2 linked regions of the Homo sapiens genome follow. The protein of the gene in region 1 interacts with the protein of each later gene in a pairwise test. Each region holds a gene or a part of one and is shown on either strand. Other genes may lie near its edges.

What was found. The genes of interacting proteins can lie anywhere in the genome.
Region 2: the proteins of SDC2 (region 1) and WFS1 interact in binary tests that used the Homo sapiens proteins (3 or more experiments, as listed by UniProt).

What each region holds. Positions count from the first base shown.
Region 1 is NC_000008.11:96,601,480-96,605,522, forward strand, and holds part of SDC2 (syndecan-2 precursor), read left to right. Parts: intron 1-915; coding exon 916-1,049; intron 1,050-4,043. UniProt on the Homo sapiens protein: Cell surface proteoglycan which regulates dendritic arbor morphogenesis.
Region 2 is NC_000004.12:6,300,850-6,303,765, forward strand, and holds the end of WFS1 (wolframin), read left to right. Parts: coding exon 1-1,619; 3' UTR 1,620-2,416; downstream 2,417-2,916. UniProt on the Homo sapiens protein: Participates in the regulation of cellular Ca(2+) homeostasis, at least partly, by modulating the filling state of the endoplasmic reticulum Ca(2+) store.

The DNA of each region.
Region 1 (4,043 bases):
AAATACAAAAAATTAGCTGGGTGTCGTAGCATGCGCCTGTAGTCCCAGCTACTCGGGAGGCTGAGGCAGGAGAATCACTTCAACCTGGAAGGCAGAGGTTGCAGTGAGCCCAGATTGTGCCATTGCACTCCAGCCTGGTGACAGGGCAAGACTCCATCTCCAAAAAAAAAAAAAAAAAAAGAAACAAAACAAAAACCCGGGAGAGAGGGCAAGGAACTCACATGAAATAAGGAGTCAGCCATAGGAGAGTTTTCCTGTTTGCATTTTGTTTTGTTGTGGGTTTTTTTAATTTTTATTTTTGGCAGAGTCTCACCCTGCCACCCAGGCTGGAATGCAATGGTGTGACCTCTGCTCACTGCAACCTCCACCTCCAGGTTCAAGTGATTCTCCTGCCTCAGCCTCCCGAGTAGCTGGGATTACAGGCGTGCGCCGCCACGCCCAGCTAAATTTTTGAATTTTTAGTAGAGATGAGGTTTCACCATATAGGCCAGGCTGGTCTCGATCTCCTGACCTCGTGATCCGCTCTCCTCGGCCTCCCAAAGTGCTGAAATTACAGGCGTGAGCCCCTGCACCTGGACTGTTGTGTTCTTAAAATGGAAATGGAGCACGTTTCAGTGTAGATGGGAAAAAATCTTGTCAAGCAGGGAGAAAAGGAACATGCAAGTGAAAGAAGGGCTACTTGAATGTTCAGGATAATACTATTAAGGAAAAACTTGCTAGACTACCCACAGACACCTTTGAAATCACTTCTTCATCATGGTGAAGACCACAGGAAGCTTTGTGCTGAAGTCTTAAAGAGCCAGCATTTTGAAAGAACATGATTCTGTCAGTGTCAACGTCAGGCAATAGTGCCTGATAATGGAGACATCTGTGTCATGATTGCCATGCTCAGTTCATCTTCACTTACTTTTCCAGGAGCTGATGAGGATGTAGAGAGTCCAGAGCTGACAACATCTCGACCACTTCCAAAGATACTGTTGACTAGTGCTGCTCCAAAAGTGGAAACCACGACGCTGAATATACAGAACAAGATACCTGCTCAGACAAAGGTGCGTTCTATTTTCCATTGCATTGCATTATCAGGTTATTACAAATGCTTCACTTTACTGACTGTACACAACAGTCCCTTTTGTATTATTTTCTTCTTTTTGGAGCTACCCATCATGAACTATGTACACAACAGTTCTTTTAAAAGACCCCACTTAAAATTGTGTAAGGACAAATGGTCTTCAGGTGGTGTTATAAATGGCTCTTCCTTACTCTTTTTGATCATTTTGGCATTTACCCACTTATAATCTCTGTCATCCAGGCTCAAATTATATACAACTATTTTTCACATGGCCCTCCTTCTTAAGGAACGTCTGAAGCCCAGTTAAGAAGTAAAGCCCTGTTTCTTTGGTTTCCTGGTTTGTAGGTTACGTAATTAGAAGACTCCAGGTCACGTCTTGAGGTGGTCCTAGTCTCACTAAGTCATTTCTCAGTCTTCCTAGGCCGACCATCAGTACTATGTAATCCTTGACCTCTCTCGATGATGATGAACCTGGGTACATCTGTATATATTCATTTTGAGAGCTGACTTATTAAGAATAAGGTCTTTGGCCTTAGACCTGAGTAAAGTGACCAGCTAATGAAAACTTGGAGCTTGTGATTTTGACCTCGTTAATATTGCAGTTAGCTGACCATCCACTAATAGGTAACCCACTGAAGTTAGAACATGCATATTAAAGTCTGGCAAAGACCTAAGTTTCAAATCCTGGATCCAGTCAGGTTTCTTAGCTTCTGAACCCATTTCCTATGGGCCTTGAAGAAGATGAAATGTGAGTGCATGTAGCATGGCACCTGAGACCTAGTCACCATTCTGTAAGCATTAATTGAATTGGTGGAGCAGAAGAGACCAAGCCAATTCACCAAATGAGCATGTGTAATAACTGTAGTGGTAGACTTTGCAATCAGTGCAGGGGTAACATATGGCTTAAGAAAACTCAGAAGCACAAGCATCCCCTTTTAGAGCTCACCCATCTGTTGATTAGAAATGAGATGCTGCCAAGCTTTAGCAGCAGACAGGGTATGGATATGGAAGGCTGTTTGATGAAGGTGGCGACAGGCCTTCCTTGGAGTAAGAATCATCCCGTCTTCAGGCCAGAATGCATGTGGGCTTTTCTTACCCTTGCCCCAGAGTACCTTTGTTCTTCCTCCTCCTCCATCCTCCCAGTGCCTGTGACTGGAATGGTGAATGGCACCGCTGGATGGGTTTCTGCAGATGTGGAACAGCCAGGAAGCCAGCCCTGTCCAAATTGAAGTGCTTTCTGTAGGACCAAGAAGGGTCAATTACTATTAGTGGTAGACTTCACAAGCCAGGCGGTAGGAAGGCAGGGAGAGCCCTATGAGAACTGAGACCGACTCACCTGGCATGTGCTGGATCCATGCATAAAAGCTACTGTATCAATGTTTCAGTTGAGTGAATGAAACAAAAAAAGAAAGGGAGAAATGAAAAGTGCAGGTGCAATTGGTGGTACGATGACTGCCTCAGAGTGTGTGTGGCACAATTAGCTACTATTTACTAAAGATGCATTTGGCTCTTACCACATTTTTATTTGACCACTTCTCTTGACTAAATCTGCTGAAGTCAGAGACAATTAGGACTCACTAGCTTGAGGGAAGCAACTCTCCTGGGTGAGTTTTGGCTTGTAGTGATAGAGAGTTCTATCCTAAGCAAGACTTAATTTGACATAGAGTTCTGTCTGGTTTGTTAACAGCAATGGATTGACCACTAATTTAAGTTTTTAAAAATTGGTTTTAAGGAAGTAATTGCATCAGATCGAGATAAAAAATGTAGAACTTTGGCAGGTGAATTTAAAAATTAAGGAGCCCAAAAGATTTTAATACATTTATATTCTTACTATCATTTGTGTTCAATATAGTAATAGTAGAAATTCATCCATTTATAGGAGATTTGTTGAGTGCTATTCATTATGTGTCGAACACTGTTTGCAGCACTGATAATGATAATATTGATCATGAATAACATGAATAATAATGATTAAATTTTTCATTTTGCTGTTTATGTGGTACAGCCGAATTGAACATTGCCTCTAGGATACCATTAGTGTAGATTTTGCTTTTCAATTGGTCTCACAGTGGCATTAATGTCACTGTTACGGATATCCTATCTAGTTTGTTGTAAATTTAAGTGACTAAAATGCACAAAAGGGAATCTCGTTATTTGTTTGAGAAGAGCATCACTCATAAGCTTTTACTTCTGTTGCATTTCCATGGCATCCAAACAACCAGACATGGATGTGGCAGATCTTTACTTGGCCTCATTTAATCATCCCTGCTGTCTTTTTGCGGATTCATTTTGCACATACATTCATACAAGAGTGAAGGTATTTCAGATTAGTTCCATATTACCAAATGGTATCTTCTTAGTCAAGCCTTTGCTTCCATACGATAAAACATTTTGACTTAAAAAATGAATTTTCCACCCAGAGCCGCTTGAGGCTTGTGCACCTCCAGCTGCAGGGCGGCTCCAGTTCTGTGGAGTCCTTCAGTTCCCACACTCTCAGATCCCTGGATTGCACGCTTTGTTCAGCCTGCCGGATCAGAGGCTGAGTCAGAGGAAACTGAAAAGATCAACTCTCTTAAATGACTTTAGGGACTCAATCACATGGTGAAACCATATGATTTGTAATAATAATGGGACAAAGATGATATGGATATGGATGAATTAAACTCAGTCTCTCATATTACAGTAACTACTTAGGTCCATTTCATTTCTCACCAGAACTTGTTTACCTCTCTCCCTAGTCACAAACCTGAGTATTCACCTATTTGAGATTTCTCTTCCCTTTTCTAACTTGTAATAGTAAAGCAGTACTAATGAGCAGTGAAAAGGTCTCTAGACTAGAACCCAGATAATCCATTCTCTGACCTGTTGTCTGTCTTTCCACAAGGCAGCCAATTAATGATGGGCTTTTCATGAGAAGAATAGAAAAATCTCAGCAAAAATACTGCCAATGAGCTGCTCTCTTCTGCTTTACTTT
Region 2 (2,916 bases), on another chromosome or scaffold:
TGTCCTTCATCTCCATGGTGATCTGCACCCTCAAGGTGTTCCAGGACAGCAAGGCCTGGGAGAACTTCCGCACCCTCACCGACCTGCTGCTGCGCTTCGAGCCCAACCTGGATGTGGAGCAGGCCGAGGTCAACTTCGGCTGGAACCACCTGGAGCCCTATGCCCATTTCCTGCTCTCTGTCTTCTTCGTCATCTTCTCCTTCCCCATCGCCAGCAAGGACTGCATCCCCTGCTCGGAGCTGGCTGTCATCACCGGCTTCTTTACCGTGACCAGCTACCTGAGCCTGAGCACCCATGCAGAGCCCTACACGCGCAGGGCCCTGGCCACCGAGGTCACCGCCGGCCTGCTATCGCTGCTGCCCTCCATGCCCTTGAATTGGCCCTACCTGAAGGTCCTTGGCCAGACCTTCATCACCGTGCCTGTCGGCCACCTGGTCGTCCTCAACGTCAGCGTCCCGTGCCTGCTCTATGTCTACCTGCTCTATCTCTTCTTCCGCATGGCACAGCTGAGGAATTTCAAGGGCACCTACTGCTACCTTGTGCCCTACCTGGTGTGCTTCATGTGGTGTGAGCTCTCCGTGGTCATCCTGCTGGAGTCCACCGGCCTGGGGCTGCTCCGCGCCTCCATCGGCTACTTCCTCTTCCTCTTTGCCCTCCCCATCCTGGTGGCCGGCCTGGCCCTGGTGGGCGTGCTGCAGTTCGCCCGGTGGTTCACGTCTCTGGAGCTCACCAAGATCGCAGTCACCGTGGCGGTCTGTAGTGTGCCCCTGCTGTTGCGCTGGTGGACCAAGGCCAGCTTCTCTGTGGTGGGGATGGTGAAGTCCCTGACGCGGAGCTCCATGGTCAAGCTCATCCTGGTGTGGCTCACGGCCATCGTGCTGTTCTGCTGGTTCTATGTGTACCGCTCAGAGGGCATGAAGGTCTACAACTCCACACTGACCTGGCAGCAGTATGGTGCGCTGTGCGGGCCACGCGCCTGGAAGGAGACCAACATGGCGCGCACCCAGATCCTCTGCAGCCACCTGGAGGGCCACAGGGTCACGTGGACCGGCCGCTTCAAGTACGTCCGCGTGACTGACATCGACAACAGCGCCGAGTCTGCCATCAACATGCTCCCGTTCTTCATCGGCGACTGGATGCGCTGCCTCTACGGCGAGGCCTACCCTGCCTGCAGCCCTGGCAACACCTCCACGGCCGAGGAGGAGCTCTGTCGCCTTAAGCTGCTGGCCAAGCACCCCTGCCACATCAAGAAGTTCGACCGCTACAAGTTTGAGATTACCGTGGGCATGCCATTCAGCAGCGGCGCTGACGGCTCGCGCAGCCGCGAGGAGGACGACGTCACCAAGGACATCGTGCTGCGGGCCAGCAGCGAGTTCAAGAGCGTGCTGCTCAGCCTGCGCCAGGGCAGCCTCATCGAGTTCAGCACCATCCTGGAGGGCCGCCTGGGCAGCAAGTGGCCTGTCTTCGAGCTCAAGGCCATCAGCTGCCTCAACTGCATGGCCCAGCTCTCACCCACCAGGCGGCACGTGAAGATCGAGCACGACTGGCGCAGCACCGTGCATGGCGCCGTGAAGTTCGCCTTCGACTTCTTTTTCTTCCCATTCCTGTCGGCGGCCTGAGGATGGTCCGCCACGAGGAGCTTCCAGTGCATGTTGCCATGAGGCCTTTCCCCAGTGTGGCCCCAGCCCGACAGGCATGCACCAGTGCCGCCTGTGCCCACGTGTGCAGACTGTGGCTGCAGAGACCTTGCGACCATGTGTAGATTGCGTGGACCCCGACAAAGGGAAGGCTGCTGTGTAGCTCTGTCCACTCTGAATACCAAGTGTGTTGGGAATTGCATGCCATCTCCACCCTGAGCCTGACCTTTCTGAGTGACATGGGTGTGCCAGGCTAGACTAGGAGGTTCCGGTGTCTGGAAAAGCACTTTACAGATGAGATTCCCTCTCCTCCCCCACCTTCAAGCACCCTGTTCCCTCTTTCTTTCTTTTGTGTTGGATTTGTTTAAAAACCAAATAAGCATCTGTGTAACCTCCACAGTAGCATTTCTTATTTGTTTGGTCACTGCTACACCTTAGCAGCTCTTCCCCTTTCCTGGGGGATGTGCACGGCAGCTTGAGCCTGTCACGTGGTCAAGGCCCGGCCCCATCAGAGGCTGGGGGAGGCGGCACATTGGCAGTGTGTCACACTGAGCTGGGCACCACAGGCTGCCTCATGACCCTCCTGTCCAGCAGGTAGTGGGTGAATGTGTGAAGGTCTTGCCTGAATCCATCAGGACTTGGGAAACAGAGAACCCTGTGGGGGCGGCTGTGGGGGAGGTCCCTGCCAGTGTTTAGAAGAGCCTGACTGTGTTCAGTGCCTTGGAGCAGAAAGCCAGGGTCCTGAGTGGCTGAAATAAAAGCCTCTGGTGGAACCTGCAGCGCTTTCCTTCCTTTCTTTACCGAAAAGAAGTCTTTCTTGTACGTGCGTGAGAATCAGCAGAGCCTGCACTCCTGTTGAATGAAATGCAAGTGCAATTTGAGTTATAAAAGAGCAAGGTTGATGTTTCACAGTTGATGGCTTCCTGCCACAGCGAGACCCTGGCTTCATCTCCAGCTGGAGGGGCCCCTGGGGCATCTGCCGTAACTGTGGGGTGGCCTGGGCATGGGCTGCCTGTGCAGAGAGACCTGTGCTGAAGGTGACCATGGAGTGTCAGCCCAGCCATCTTCAGATCTTACTGAGCGGAAAGTGCACGGTCATAATTATCTTTGAATTCCAGTTACCCATGAAGTGGAGCCTACAGGGTGATTGATGGCGTGGGGGCTGCTGTCCATGCGGGAGTGTGTTGTGAAACCACCTCCTGTGTTCCCTAACCTGCAGTGATGACCCCATGGGATTATAATCAGAACTTAGTCATTTGGGGGCACCCGAGCAGCTGCA